2 separate regions of the Homo sapiens genome follow, and region 1 is linked to region 2. A link means that fine-mapping ties the variant in region 2 to the expression of a gene that starts in the linked region. Tissue or cell type: whole blood. Region 2 holds a variant in brackets; the other region holds the start of a gene. All regions are shown on one strand. Distances are between the middles of the regions.

Region 1 (8,000 bases), 49 kb before region 2:
TCGAAAAAACACAGACTCGATTGTGACAGAAATACCGCCACAAACGCAGGTACAGGGACAGCCGACACCGAGAACCAAGGGAAGCGGCTGAGAGCTGCGCCTCCACGGAATAACTGCCAGCCGGCACAGTGCGAGTGAGAAACCGGCCACTCCATGAAACGACCAGTACTGCCACGGAAAAGAATCCGACGTCGCCAACAAGCGGTGCTACCAGGAGAAACGCCTGCTTTTGAAGAAAACAGCCAGGAACGCGACTGAAAGACACTTGCTCCCAGGAAGAATTGGCATTTGTTCCAAAACACAGCTGGATAAACCGAGAACCTTCGGAGTGGTTGCACCGAAACGGGGTCACCCAGCACCTCAGCGTCCTGGGCTCTAGCAAGCCTCACAGAAGCAACCGGCAGTGCTAACACCGAGGAGCACCTAGAGCGGCAAAACTAGCAGTAATGCCATCGACGAAAGGCCAGTTAGGCCAAAAGAATAGAATATTTAGTTCCGGGAATTACAGGCCAGCGCAAACCAGACAGCATAAAGCTGAGGGTCAGCAAAACAAAAATTAGGAACAATTTTTTTTTAAAGGGCAAGTTAGCTGAAAAACACACGCACACACAATAAAAACAATACATTTGGGAAGATTCATCAAATGAAAATTCAAAACTAAGCAAAACATGGAAAAATGGACTCTACAAAGAAGAAAATGCAAACACTTCTAAACAATGTGGTTTCACAGAGGTAATATCGCTGTCAGGCCTATATCAGTATCTGCTCGGTCTCACCAGGACTTCTAACTAAGGGACTGCAGACACTGCTAAACCGCTACTTGCTACTCCTAAAATATCTTCTTCACCTACGTGCCCGGACTTCTATATTTAAAACTCAGGCATAAGTAAAGCAGGGTAAGTTATTATGAAACCGAAAGTTACTGGGACTAAGGAGTCGCAGGCATGGCTATGCTAGTACTGGTTGCGACCAAATATGGACTTGCAAGAGCTAAGAAATCACATTCACAGGGGCACTTAAAATCGAAGCATGCACTTGTTACTCTAAGAAATCCCTAACCCAGGACTCGCTCAGAATATTTCGAACGCAGAATTAAGCATCTTTATCGCAGGCGAAATAAGCCGATACTTATTCCGCTTAAGTCCGAACTTGCTATGCAGAGAAACCACAATCAGGGCTACATTCCGAGTGTAGGAGGTTTAAAACTCCCGAAAAGGCAGTCAAAGCAGGCAGGGCCAAGCCGGACCTGCTGTGCCTACCCGAATTGCTAAACCCAGTTGTGGTACCATTAAGTAACTGGTAGTTCTCTTATAAGCCAAGCTAAACTGTTCCAAAGAAAAAGACGCTGGAAACACTGCTAGCCCTGAGACCCATGAATAAGTAGTCTTTTCAATTATTTATTTATTTTGAGACAGGCTCTCGCTCTGCTGGAGGGCGTTGGTGCTATCCGGCTCACCGCAGCCTCGACCTCCTGAGCTCAAGCAACCCGCCCACCCCAGCCTCCGGAGCAGCTGGGACTACAGGTGCACACCATCTCACAGGGCTAACTTTTGCATTTTTTGTAGACACAGGCCTCACCCTGTCGCCCAGGCTTTTCTCAAACTCCTGAGCTCAAGCAATCCGCATGCCTCCGCTGCTGAAAGTGCTGGGATTACTGCCGTGAGCCACGCTGCCCCGCCAGAATAAGTAATCTTAAGAACTGGTCATCTGTGAAGTTGTATTAATATAAGTAATTGCGTGGTCCTTCCACGAGAAATAGCAAAGATTGATAAACCTCTCAGTCTTATGATCGTGAATAAAATTCCTGAGTGTAAAACAATGAATCGATATACTGAAAAAAAGAAAGACCGCTGTTAAAAATAAAATTAACAATTAAAATTAAAAAGACGTTATAATAACGTAAAAGACATGATATAAAATTAAATGTAAACAAACAATACATTTAAAAAGCAATAATTAGAAAAATAGTAGGAATAAGATTTTAAAATACAATGGAAAAAAACAAATTTTAAATTTGCCAAAAACTCTAAGAATTCTACAATCGTAAAATAGATTTCTCAAAGTGAAAACAGATACGAATGAAATATTTAATGAAATAAATACAAATATTTAAAATACAAGGAAACTGAAAGTAATAAGCGACGCGAAACAAGAAAGAAACATAAGGGAAAAAGAGAATTTAAAAACTGACAACCAGCAATGAAAGCACATCTTAATGTATTTTTATTTTCTAGGTGGAGACGTTTGGTAACTGAGAATCTTTTCAAGGAGGAGAATCCAAAAAGCCTTCTGCTGCTATCTAAGGCTGCTTAGCTCCACAGATCCGTGAACAGCACGCCCAGAGTACAGAGAACGCGGCAAAACCAACGCGAAGAATCCACTCCAGGCAGTCTGAGAAACCCGGGAGGTGGCGCCACGGCTGGAGGGCAGGAGGATGGCGGCGTTCCAAAAGGCACCCGCTGTCACAGACCTCGGTGTCCTGCTGTCTGTCCCAGGGATGGAGAGGACTGCTCCAGGGAAGCTGCTGGAGCCTGAGTCTGTCGGGTTCCTCTGCCTGCCCCACCTCTTCTACGGGTGCCTCTTGCTGCTTCTGTGTCCCCGGCCAACTGAACTCAGTGGGCTTCGCTGTACTTGGTTCCAAGGTGCTCTGGACTCCAGGAGAGAGTCCGTTTTGCCAGTAGACTCCGGGCAGCCGCCAGCAAGGGCTGGAAAGCAGTCCCAAATCACAGCTGTCCAGTGAGTACTCTCCTAGTACTGGATACAAAGGAAGAGGCCACGGCCCACGATCTTCTGAACTCACAATAGGTGGAGGCTGGGGCTCTGGCGCCACCTCTGCGGAATCCCAAGCCCGCTTCACACAGCCAAGAAAATGTTGCTCCATCCCTCAAGCCTCAGACCAACGTTTGCGCTGATCAAGGAGGGAGAGTCTCTGCACTACCATCAGCCTGAGTATTTATGCTCTGCAGAGCCCGTGGGCGGAGGCCAGTCAGATATTAAGAAACTCAGTAGTAACAAATGCACGAAAATTAGTAGACAAATGAAAAACGATAACATTTTAGAGAGTACATAGAACCAAAACGAACCGTAATTCCGACAGAAAAACATGGCGAGAAAAGAAACCGAAATGAAATGACACTAAGCAAATCTTGAAGAGAACTAGCGCTACAGAACGCAGGTATTCAAGAGCGCGCAAGGGCCAAGAACCACCCGTTTCCGGGAAATGAGCGTTGCTGCCACCGGAAAACTGTCTGCTAGGGCTCTGCCCTAACCACCTTGCAAACGAGAAACTGGCGCGTTGAACTTAGCAAGCGCCGGCACCTAGCGGATAGCGCTGGTATTGCCAAACAAATATCCGTTTTGGCGCCGTAAAGGGTGCTGCTAAAGAGAAACAGCATGCTCTTAGAACTAAGAGCGGTGCTTCCACACCTAAACAACCTGTTTGGAGGAATGAACCAACTCTGTTTCAATGTGTTGTACCAGAAAAATGTGTTGCGGCATTTAATGTGTTTTAATCCGTTCAATGTGTTTGATAGGTTTAATATGTTTTAACCCGTTTTAATGGGTTGTGACAGAAAAAGCGCCGGCTAATGGTACCACACAATTACTAGTGCGAACAGCGGCTCGGTGCAATCACCGTTCTGCACGGCAAAACGGGGTTCAGGAAGTTCCTAGGAGATACTAGCGGTTGTAGGAGCGAAAAAGTGACAGCACTGAGAACCTAAGGACCCCGCGAACGGGAAATGTCACGTTGGGTGCAGCAACTGAGAAAACGCCCAGTGGGCGCCACTGGCAAACGTGCTGATACAAAACCGCCAGCTCTGCATAGGAAGCGGAGCCTCCAGACAGAACCCGGAACCTGATACCAGCGAGGCTAAGACCGAGCTCGGCTCCCCGGCTCCTGAGAGAATGAAAGTCAAGAAGCACGAATCTGAGACGCTCAAAATTAGAAGAAAAAAAAAATACATAATTTAAAATAATGAAAGTCTGAAATGCAAGTAAAAATGAAAAACACATCGGTAACATTGTCCTCAGAGCAAGACACAAAAATAATTTTAAGGTAAGCAAAAGTTACAGAGAACCAACCCTACAAAGAAGAAATTACAAATATGGCTAAGCGATGCAATGCCTACCATTAGAATATTTCTGTCAGATCTAAACCCCTGCAGGTTGCTCCTGTCATAATTTCCTACGAGAAAAAAAACAAAAATATCCACGGTTAAACGTGTTTAGCTACGTCTAAAAAATCGTAGTAGCTGGTACATCCCGATTTGGTCTACAAGAGGAAAAAGTCTCGATGGGCAGGACTTGCTATTGTCAAAGGGAGCTTGGTAAAACTGAGACATCGCGATCGCCGGCATTTCCTGACTTCCACGGGAGTTTTAAAAACACACAAGCATAGCTAAGACAGGACTCGATATTGCGAAACCAAACTTGGTATAAGAGCTCCCAACACTGCTAAACTGGTCATCGCTAAACCTTTAAAAAAAAAAAAAAAGCATTCGCTGGTACCCAGATTTCCACAGGAGTTAAACATTTCCTGCGCAGCTAAAGCAAGTCTTACCAGTAGGAAACCGGAACTTGCTAGGACTAAGAAACTTGAGGCTAGGCTGACCCCATGGTTGTTATGATTAGAAATCCGAGGCCACTGGAAACCCGGAGCTGCTGACCAACGAGTCACAGGGTAACTTCGCCTTCGCATGGGGAAACGGGTGAGTTCCTACGGCCTAGATATCGCAGCCAGGGCTAGACCGGTGTTTGTCTTAAGTCAGGACTTGCTTGGGCTGAGAAAATACATTTTGGCTATTCCCCTACTTGGACAGAGGGTGGAAATCCCAGGCACCGCGAAATCGAAACTTGCTAGGACTAAGAAGCCAACGACGCGCGAAACCGTGGGGTCCTGCGACAGAGACGCCGGCGGCGCCGCCACAGGACTGCGTTCTGGAGGCCGAGCCGGAACCCGTGCGGCGGCGCTGGGAAGAGACTGTGCCCCTGCAGCTCCCCTGTCACCGGCTCCAAGGAGCGTCGGGCTCCCCCCGCCCAGCCCTGCAGCACCCATCCGGCAACGCCAGACTCGGCGCAACGGGGGCAGCTGCGACTTTAAATCTCTCAGATCCGCGGCCTGAGGGCTGCCGCCACCGAGAAATGGAGGCACAGAGCTGTGAACAAGAGACCACGGCTCGCCGAAATGGCGGTGCCAGGAGCCTGAAAGGGAATGCAGCCGGCGGGGTTGTCAAGGACAACATTTGTTTTGGCGCAACCAGCGGTGCCGTCACCAAGAAACCGTCGACTCTGAGAAAAAAAGAGAAGTTCGGCTACCGAGAAACTCCGTGCAGCAAGTGCTGTGACAGCAAAACCGCCGGCTTCGCGCCGCTGGCGAAAGAGCCAACGGAAACGCCGGGTGCTGCGACCGCGAAGCCGGCACTAGAGGGCCTCGGATGGAGAAAGCCCCGCACCGAGACGAGGAAACTGTGCACAGCACGACTAGCAGTTGACACAAACAGAAAAGTGTCTCGTCTGCTCTCTGGGAGAAAGCGTGGATCAAAACCAGCAACTCAGTGGAGAGAACCCCGCAGCCACTGAAGAAGTTGCCCACGTGGCGGTGGGGCCAGAGAAACACCGCGATTTCGACGACAGCCGTAGGGATACCACAGAGAAACATGCGCGGCCACAGAAGTACATCCAGCTCCGCGCAATCAGTGGTTCTGCGATCCAGAAACCGCCAGCTGGGCTAGACTAGAAACTTCTAAAAAACTGTCGTCCCATAGCAGCTTTCCTAACCACGACAGACAGTCGCCTTTAGAGAGCACCTAACGGTGCTGAGACCGGCCTGGGCCAGCAAAAGCGCAGAGCGGTGCCAGTGCCAAGAAACGCCCGACTTGGTGAAACCAACCTTGTGACCACCGATTCCACTGGCTTCGCAGGACGCAACGGGCGAAGGCGCGGCGGAGAAACCGCAGGCTCCCTTCACCGATTATGCTGCGGGCTGGGGATGGTGGGGGGCACCCGCGAAATTGTGAAACCAGCGGCGCTGGGACCCAGCGATCAGCTGCCCGTAGCAAATGTCTGTGCAGTTGCAAAAGATAATTTTTGGCCGTGAGAAGGTTGCCGCCAGAGAGCGTCCGATAACGCTGACAAAGGCGTGGCGTTGCCAGTGAGAAACAGCCGGCGCTGGGAAAGGAACGGTGCAGCGACCGACCAACTGCGCGCTCGGTGCCACCAAAGTGCTACTGGCTCTACCCACTCTGTCCCCCACGGGCTTAGGGAAGTCTGATGTCTTTTTCTTTTCTTTTTTCCTCTGTCGCCTAGGCTGGTGCAGTGGTGTCATCTTGGCTCAGTGCAGCCTCGACTTCCTGGGATCCAGCGATCCTCCCGCTTCAGCCTCTAGAGTAGCCGAGACCACAGGTGAGTGCTACCACCCCCGTCTAATTTATATATATTTATATATATAAATATATATATTAAAATATATATTTTATATTTATATATAATATAAATAAATATATAAATATAAATATATATTTTTATATATTATATAAAATATATAAATATATATTTATTTATATATTATATATAATATATATATTATATAATATATATATTATATAATATATATATAATATATAATATATATATTATATATAAAATATATTATATATAATATATATAATATATTATATATTATATATTATATATAATATATATAATATATTATATATAATATATAATATATAATATATTATATATAATATATAAAATATATAAAATATAGTATATAATATATAAAATATATTATATATAATATATAATATATAAGATATATAATATATTATATATAATATATTATATATAATATATTTTATATAGTATATAAAATATAAAATATATATTATATATAAAATATATATTATATATAAAATATATATTATATATAAAATATATATTATATATGAAATATATATATATAAATATATATATATTAGTGACGGCGGTCTCGCTATGTTGCCCAGGCTGGTCTCGAACTCCTGAGCTCAAGCGATTCGCCCGCCTGGGCCTCCCAAAGTGCTGGGATCACAGGCGTGGGCCACCGAGGCCCGCAGGAAGTCTGTATTGTTCTTGCATTCCACCCAGTGCATTACGCAGGGGGAGAGTAGTGGGCTTATGCGCCGAGAACCAAGCAGATCCTGTTGGTCCCAGGAACAAAGTATAAACCATTCTGGTCGCCAACAGCTTCCTACGCAGGAAACAGCCATCCACCCTCTGTGACTGGGCTTTTCCAGGTCACCCCTCGCTGCCAGGCTCTCTTCCCGGTCCAGAGCCCACAGGATCCTACAGGAGGGGCCAACAACTGCTTGCCTTTGAAACTTGAAACTCTCGGTCTAAGGTTCCTTAGGAGCGTAAAAGGCACAGCGTTTTCTGATCGCAGCTTCAGGTCTCCCGCCCCTGTCCCGGTACCTCTCCTGCAGGACGGAACTCTGTGGGAACGCTCGTTGATTCTGATGGTTAACTGTCAGATATCCTTGATATTGGACATAGGATTTGGAAGAGGGCAGGAGAGAAAAATGAACTGCAAGACTCCAGCACAAGAGGTGGGATTGCTGGCAGATGTCTGCTCCCTCTCCAAACCTAATGAACATCTCAAAGTGCCATCCACTTTCCTATACCCTTGATCTGTGAAATGGATCACTGACGCTTTCTCTGTCTTTCCGGAAATGCAAAACAGGTGAATTTTCAAGCGCTTGAATTGTCTCTCACACTTTTCAGTCAAGAGTGGGGCTATAAACTCCTTCCTCATAGGAAATAAGGAACTGCCACTGCTTGGAAGTAAAACGTATTTTTCCCATAAGCTTTCACATTTCCCAAAAAAAATTATACATCCAGATGTAATCCCCCTAAGAGGCTTACAGACCCTACCAGGAGCGTTCCCACGCGAACGCATCATCTCCCAATCGGATCCTGAAAACACCATGCAACCAATTCCATCCTTTTCTGGATCAACCTGG
Region 2 (8,347 bases):
AAAAAAAAAAAAAAAGACACAATTGACAAGAAAATTTGCTTATTTCTGTGGCATATAACAATTTAACACAATAATCATATGAATCATAACATAGGCCAAGACATATCATAATTTTAGGAATCTCATACAATTTTGGAGCACATATTAATAACACATTTCTGCAAATGTAACTCAAAGTTAAATGCCACTTCTATTTGACAGTGTTTTCCATATGATTTTTATATACCAAAATTAAAAGTTAGTTTCAGGTCAAAAAGACTTAATTTTAGAATATAAAATTTGATTTTGAGAAGTTTGTCAACTATTAAAGGCTTAAAACACTTGATAGGAAAATAAGAAAGGTTTCAAACCCTGGATCAAAATAGAATTACACATAAGTAATCCTTATCTTACACAAATAAGTTACTCATTTAGCCAAAGTGATAATTCAAAGATTTCAAAAAGCAAAAACCCTTACTCTTTGATAGAGAGGAGACTCAGTTCTCTAAACAGTCAAAAAGACAAAGACAGCATGAGGCAAACTCTCTTTTTTCTTTTGCAATGTATTTAAAAGGTGAACAAAAAATCTTGCATTTGTTATCTCTTTTTTTTTTTTTTTTTTTGTTGTGTTCTAGGAAAACTTTATTTATAAACACAGGCAGCCAATAGTTTGCCAACTCCTATTTTAGAACATGAGTGAGAATCATCAATAAAACTACAAATCTTTGCAACAGTCAGAATAAGAAAATAGTGAATTAAAGACTATTAGCATTTCAGCCATCTAGGACAGTGTTCTTCTCATTATCATACGTAAATATTTGTTTTGTTTTTTTTTTTTTTTAATTGATCATTCTTGGGTGTTTCTCGCAGAAGGGGATTTGGCAGGGTCATAGGACAATAGTGGAGGGAAGGTCAGCAGATAAACAAGTGAACAAAGGTCTCTGGTTTTCCTAGGCAGAGGACCCTGCTGCCTTCCGCAGTGTTTGTGTCCCTGGGTACTTAAGATTAGGGAGTGGTGATGACTCTTAACGAGCATGCTGCCTTCAAGCATCTGTTTAACAAAGCACATCTTGCACCGCCCTTAATCCATTTAACCCTGAGTGGACACAGCACATGTTTCAGAGAGCACAGGGTTGGGGATAAGGTCACAGATCAACAGGATCCCAAGGCAGAAGAATTTTTCTTAGTACAGAACAAAATGAAAAGTCTCCCATGTCTACTTCTATCCACACAGACCCGGCAACCATCCGATTTCTCAATTTTTTCCCCACCCTTCCCGCCTTTCTATTCCACAAAACCGCCATTGTCATCATGGCCCATCCCCAGTGAGCCGCTGGGCACACCTCCCAGACGGGGTCGTGGCCGGGCAGAGGGGCTCCTCACTTCCCAGTAGGGGCGGCCGGGCAGAAGCGCCCCTCACCTCCCGGATGGGGCGGCTGGCCGGGCGGGGGGCTGACCCCCCCACCACCCTCCCGGACGGGGCGGCTGGCCAGGCAGAGGGGCTCCTCACTTCCCAGTAGGGGCGGCCGGGCAGAGGCGCCCCTCACCTCCTGGATAGGGCGGCTGGCCGGGCGGGGGGCTGACCCCTCCACCTCCCTCCCGGACGGGGCGGCTGGCCGACCCCCCCCGCCGCCTCCCTCCCGGATGGGGCGGCTGGCCAGGCAGAGGGGCTCCTCACTTCCCAGTAGGGGCGGCCGGGCAGAGGCGCCCCTCACCTCCCGGACGGGGCGGCTGGCCAGGCGGGGGGCTGATCCCCCCACCTCCCTCCCGGACGGGGCGGCTGGCCGGGCGGGGGGCTGACCCCCCCACCTCCCTCCCGGACGGGGCGGCTGGCCGGGCAGGGGGCTGACTCCCCCTCCCCCCTCCCGGACGGGGCGGCTGGCTGGGCGGGGGCTGACCCCCCCACCTCCCTCCCGGACGGGGCGGCTGGCTGGGCAGAGGGGCTCCTCACCTCCCAGTAGGGGCGGCCGGGCAGAGGCGCCCCTCACCTCCCGGACGGGGCGGCTGGCCAGGCGGGGGGCTGATCCCCCCACCTCCCTCCCGGACGGGGCGGCTGGCCGGGCGAGGGGCTGACCCCCCACCTCCCTCCCGGACTGGGCGGCTGGCCGGGCGGGGGGCTGATCCCCCCACCTCCCTCCCGGACGGGGCGGCTGGCCGGGCAGAGGGGTCCTCACTTCCCAGTAGGGGCGGCCGGGCAGAGGCGCCCCTCACCTCCCGGACGGGGCGGCCGGCCGGGCGGGGGGCTGACCCCCCCACCTCCCTCCCGGACGGGGCGGCTGGCCGGGCAGAGGGGCTCCTCACTTCCCAGTAGGGGTGGCCGGGCAGAGGCGCCCCTCACCTCCCGGACGGGGCGGCTGGCCAGGCGGGGGGCTGATCCCCCCACCTCCCTCCCGGACGGGGCGGCTGGCCGGGCAGGGGGCTGACCCCCCCTCCCCCCTCCCGGACTGGGCGGCTGGCCGGGCGGGGGGCTGACCCCCCCACCTCCCTCCTGGACGGGGCGACTGGCCAGGCAGAGGGGCTCCTCACTTCCCAGTAGGGGCGGCCGGGCAGAGGAGCCCCTCACCTCCCGGACGGGGCGGCTGGCCGGGCGGGGGCTGACCCCCCCCACCTCCCTCCTGGACGGGGTGGCTGCTGGGCGGAGACGCTCCTCACTTCCCAGACGGGGTGGCTGCTGGACGGAGGGGCTCCTCACTTCTCAGACGGGGCGGTTGCCAGGCAGAGGGTTTCCTCACTTCTCAGACGGGGCGGCCGGGCAGAGGCGCTCCTCACATCCCAGACAGGGCGGCGGGGCAGAGGTGCTCCCCACCTCTCAGACGATGGGCGGCCGGGCAGAGACGCTCCTCACTTCCTAGATGGGATGGCGGCGGGGAAGTGGCGCTCCTCGCTTCCTAGATGGGATGGCGGCCGGGCAGAGACGCTCCTCACTTTCCAGACTGGGCAGCCAGGCAGAGGGGCTCCTCATATCCCAGACGATGGGCGGCCAGGCAGAGACGCTCCTCACTTCCCAGACGGGGTGGCGGCCGGGCAGAGGCTGCAATCTCGGCTCTTTGGGAGGCCAAGGCAGGCGGCTGGGAGGTGGTTGTAGCGAGCCGAGATCACGCCACTGCACTCCAGCCTTGGCACCATTGAGCACTGAGTGAACGAGACTCCGTCTGCAATCCCGGCACCTCGGGAGGCCGAGGCTGGCGGATCACTCGCGGTTAGGAGCTGGAGACCAGCCCGGCCAACACAGCAAAACCCCGTCTCCACCAAAAAAAAAACGAAAACCAGTCAGGCGTGGCGACGCGCGCCTGCAATCGCAGGCACTCAGCAGGCTGAGGCAGGAGAATCAGGCAGGGAGGTTGCAGTGAGCCGAGATCGCAGCAGTACAGTCCAGCTTCGGCTCGGCATCAGAGGGAGACCGTGGAAGGAGACCGGGGAGAGGGAGACGGAGAGGGAGACGAGAGGGAGGGGGAGGGGGAGGGGGAGGGGGAGAGGGCTTGTTAGAGAGCTTGTTATCTCTTATATGGAAATTTTGTTAAAAAATTTGTATCTCTATATCCGTATATTATTAATGCTAAAGCTAATTTTAGTAAAATTATGAACAGGTCTATCTAACCTCAATTAGTTTTGACCACAGAAGATAAGATTTGTATAAACCTTTTATAACCTTTTATAATTTTTTAAATTTAGTTTTATCTGTTATTAACTATTAAAAATTTAAAACTTTAAAACAAACATCTAAACTAAGCTAGGTGTGGCAGCTCACACCTGTAATCCCAGCACTTTGGGAGGCCGAGGCAGGAGGATCCCTTGAGTCCAGGAGTTCAAGACCAGCTTGGGTAATAAACTGAGATCCCGTCTCCACAAAAAAAAATATTTAATTACCCAATTATGGTTGTGTGCACCTACAGTCCCAGCTACTTGGGAAGCTGAGGCAGGAGGAACCCTTGAGCACAGAAGTTTGAGGTTATATAGTGAGCTGATAACACCACTGCAGTCCAGCCCAGGCAACAGAATGAGACCCCATCTCGAAACCCTCAAAACTGAACAACATTTTTCTTACCAACAACTATATTTTTATGTCTTTTTAATAAC[CT/C]TTTTTTTTTTTTTGAGACTAAATCTTGCTCTGTCACCCAGGCTGGAGTGCAATGACACGTTCTCGGCTCACTGCAACCTCTGCCCCTCGGGATCAAGCGATTCTCCTGCCTCAGCCCCCTGAGTAGCTGGGATTACAGAAGCGTGCCACCACACCCAGCTAATTTTTGTATTTTTAGTAGAGACAGGGTTTCGCCATGTTGGCCAGGCTGGTCATGAACTCCTGACCTCAGGTGATCCACCCACCTCCTCCTCCCAAACTGCTGGGATTACAGGCATGAGCCCCTGCGCCCTTGCCAATCTTCTTTATTTAAAACATCTTTTTTGTATATGTTGCATATAGAAGTGTTTTTGTGTATGTTGTATATATTTTGTATATAGAAGCATTTTTTGTATCTAGAAGGCTTTTCTTTTCCTTTTTTTTTTTTTGTGAAATAGAGGATCTTACTCTCTTACTCTGTTGCCCAGGCTGGAGTACAGTGGCATGATCATAGTTCACTGCAGCCTAGACCTCCTGGGCTCAAGCAGTCCTCTCACTTCAGCCTCCTGAGTAGCTGGGACTACAGGCATGTGCCACCATGCCTGGCAAATTTTTTTTTTTTCATAGAGACAAGGTTTCACCATATTGCCCAGACTCATCTTGAACTCCTGGGCTAAAGCAATCTACCAGCTTTAGCCTCCCACAGTGCTGGGACTACAGGCATGAGCCACCATGCCTGGCCTAACCTAGAAGTTTTAATTATACATAATAATTATAATATTAATGCTTAATAACTCTGATTTTTAGTGAAAAATCAAGGAAATAAGTAATTTTAACTGTTATATACCAGATGTAGAGACCAATACAAAGGAAAGAGCTCTCAAGACAGTCTCTGTAGGACCTGATTTCTCTCAGCATGGCCAGGAGGCACAGCTGGACTAGGGAAAGTGAGGCACAGGTCATGTCCCCAGTCCTCACAACGGCCACTGGTCTAGGCCACTGGTATGGGTCTCTCATATATATATATGGCTTGAATATCAGCTTTTAATTAAGCTGACTTCTGACCATGTAGCTCTTTTTTAATTAAAAAAATCTTTCAAAATTTCTTATTATCAGATTTTAGCTGAGACAAACAGCTAACATTGCTGGCTTTTGAACTTTTTAACCAAAGACACCCTACATAACCAAGAATGCATGAGGTGTCTCCAAAGAGGCACAAAGAAGTACTCACAAGATCCAGAACCAACTTCAAAGATAGCTCAAAGAAGTAAGAGTTTTGCTAATCACAAATGGGGTATAATTTGTATCTGTCTGATTATATTCTCTCTAGGGTCTCAGCTTCTCATCTGGCCATCACAAAGGCCCAAAAAGCCCCATGTGCCCTTACAGATGGAAGACAATCAAAAGCTGTCCATGGAAAGGAAAAAGATGAAAAACAAATGAGTACCCCCAAAAGTAAAAAGTCACATGATTATCAAACCAAAAGGGGCTGATTCCCTGCCCAGGAGTCAAACCCAGGCCACTCTGGTGAAAGCAGAGAATTTTATCTAAACTACAAGGTGGAGCAGACTACTTAGTGAATCTTGAATGGGATCCAAAGTAAGGAGTTTGAGCTCATAAAGGGTTTTAACTTTGTTTTCAGTTAGGGGTTTGCTCTTTAATTTTGTCAAGAGAATTTCTAAGGCTAGCCATGACACCATTGTATGTCTTTCTTTTAATGTAATCTTCCTATAAATACAAATAAGGCAATTGTTGAGAATGAGAGATCTTTAAAAATGTTTTTTGAGTTTAGGAGTCTTTCTAATTTAAAGGATCCATCGTCTGGACATTGGAAATTAGAATTTCCACTGGTATACTTAATTCAATGCAACAGCCTCTTCATTGGAAAACCCAAGATATAAATTTCTAGGTTTAATGTAAGTTTTTATCATTTAAGAAAAAGATGTTTCTTGAAGAGGCATAGAAGTGGCAATCCTAAAGAGTCTCTCCCTCAAAAATTTACTCCCAGGAATAGGCCAAGATAGAAAGATTCTTATTGCCACACATGGTTAAGGATGCTGTTTGTGCATACAGTGCCTCTGGTGACTTAGAAATTTGTGGGGATCACCAGTCACAGACCTCTTAATTTGTGACACCAAGTAGGCTCTTTTAGGATAGGACTTTTCTAGCACTAACCAGGCAACAAGGGTTGAGGCAACAAAAACCCTGTAGAGATGGGACTTTTAAAGACAAACTACCTCAAGAGCTTGACACATTTGGAACAAAAAGTGTATTGCTTCAAATCTTATATGACTCTGGTTCCCAGCCATTTTCAGACTGGCCACCAGACATGATCCAAAAATCATGCCACCCAAATGATGGAGACAGAGAGTGCTCCCACTTGGTCACAGGTCAAGCTCAAGGACATAAAACAAGACAAGAGGGGAACCTCATCCAGTTTTTATTTTGGAAACCCACAGCAAAGTTTATACGCTGCTCTGATCACAATCAAAACTGACCAGTTTTCAGGGTTGGCTTGAAAAACGGGCTTATAGGAGGTTTAGGCCCATGTTCCACCCTATGGTGTCCTTCTTTATCACAGAACAACACAAAAAGACAAAGAAGAAAACTGTTTCTGGGAGGAGAAAGACCAAACAATACGAATATTCATACCAAACAGTACATCAGAGTTGTTAGACCCACTACTAGCCACACAAATTTTTTTCTCCTATTAATCAAAATTTTGCAGAGGAAAAAGAGACATACAGTGATTTTTGCCATCCACTTGACTGGATTCCACAGAGAGAGACCGAGAGCCTGGTTGGTAAGAAAATCTTACCTTTCTGCCATCTAGTCAGGTCCTAGGTTCCCTTCACTGCAGTTTCCAGAACAGCAAAGAGACTTTGGGATCCTGCTGACAGCACCAAAACTGTAGAAGCTAAGGGAATATTTCCCTTCCTCCTCTGAAGGTTTGATGAAAAATCAACTGACAAAAGGCCAATTACTAGGGGAGATGGCATAGAAATTTACTAGCATGCATTGGGGGAAAGTCACAAGTGATTACCCTAACAATGGGGTATGAATGTTTATATACCAATTTAAGGTTACCAGAAAGAATGGGGGCTTAAGTCTGGCTACATCAATACAGGTTTTCTCTACAGATGAAGGTCTCCCTCATAAAACACAGTTTTTAGGACTACTTCTGTTTGCAGGCCCTCTGAACCACTATCATGAAGTATGTCAAACAAATAGATTTTGGAGTGAAATGTTTTTATTTCCTCAGGAAACCAGCCCTAACAACTCTGAGGCAAGAAGAGGCTTCAGGACTGGATATGGGACTTAGGTGACAGAAAGTCTCCTACCTCTTCAAAAGCACAAACATACTTTATTTCTGTTAAAGAAAAAATGTAACACAGTTGTTAGGATGGTAAAGCAGACTTCATTCAGCATTATTGCCATAGGTGTACTTTGCAGTAGAGGATTGAGATTGGGATCAGCTCCTAATACAAGGAAAATAAGGGATTTACAGCCAAAGACTGAGAGGTAGGGATGGAACGTGGGGCAGGACAGGGGTTAGTGAATGGAAAATTACTAAAAGGATACGTTAATTTTTTCTAAAGTGACCTAACAGTATTCTTGCTATAGGCAGACCAGGGTGATCAGATATCAATTGGAGAATAAGGAATGTGGTCAGATATCGAGGGCGAATCAGATATTGAAGATAGGGGATGCTGGCTAAAACTGGGCTCTTGAGGCAATGTCCAAGGTCCAAGCATAGGTGGGAAAGGGGTGAGGAGACTGTGTCTAGGGTTTGGTCAAGGAGGGTCTTTGTCAGTCCCTTCTACTTCACTCTGTAAAACCCCCTAGTAATTTTATTGGAACCTTAGGGAAGGTGTTACACAAACACAATTTAAGCTCAAGGTTGCCAGGAGATTTTGACCCCTTCATCCTAGAAATTCATGTGGTGGCCACTGTGATGAAGGAAACCCACATATCCTGGAAGAGGGAAGGCCTTGCCCATTTCTCACAAATCTGCTCATCCAGAATTGGCCTCACCAGTTAGGAGACTCAATTCATTTGGACCAATCCTGTCTTTCCACTAGAACTTTCCTGGCTCTACTTAAGCCCATTTTCCCCAAATGTGCTCTTCCAGAATTGGCCTTGCGAAGTGACTGCTTGGTTCTCTCTGCTTCTTCCTCATGCATCTTCCCAGTTCAGCATAAGCCACCATACTGATCCTAGGTTGACCCTTCTTCAACACCTGGAACAGCATCCAGGAACCTAGACAGAGGTCAATTTGGAGATTTGTTTGGCATCCTGGTCCCCACCCAA

The links. PIP is the estimated chance that this variant, and not a neighbour inherited with it, causes the effect.
Region 1: ANXA2R starts here. The variant in region 2 is fine-mapped to the expression of ANXA2R in whole blood (INTERVAL, PIP 0.95).

Annotation. Positions count from the first base shown.
Region 1 is chr5:43,037,166-43,045,165 of GRCh38, forward strand. It overlaps ANXA2R (annexin A2 receptor), which reads right to left and starts at 3,154. Exons shown (of 1, transcript NM_001014279.3): 1 at 2,206-3,154. The coding sequence starts at 2,881. The coding sequence ends at 2,300. All of the region lies in intron 2 of ANXA2R-OT1 (ANXA2R overlapping transcript 1), which reads right to left. ANXA2R-AS1 (ANXA2R antisense RNA 1) reads left to right here and starts at 4,969. Exons shown (of 2, transcript NR_015447.1): 1 at 4,969-6,402; 2 at 7,278-8,000. RefSeq lists enhancers at 2,036-2,576, 2,268-2,317, 2,338-2,747, 2,758-2,807, 4,463-4,542 and 7 more and a silencer at 3,148-3,417.
Region 2 is chr5:43,085,725-43,094,071 of GRCh38, forward strand. It overlaps LOC100506639 (a long non-coding RNA gene), which reads left to right. Exons shown (of 3, transcript NR_102752.1): 3 at 7,299-7,834. It overlaps LOC124900972 (a long non-coding RNA gene), which reads right to left. Exons shown (of 2, transcript XR_007058762.1): 2 at 6,461-8,347. Among named protein-coding and RNA genes, the nearest start is that of ANXA2R-OT1, 22 kb to the left of the region's middle. The variant CT/C (reference allele first, on the strand shown) is at 4,057.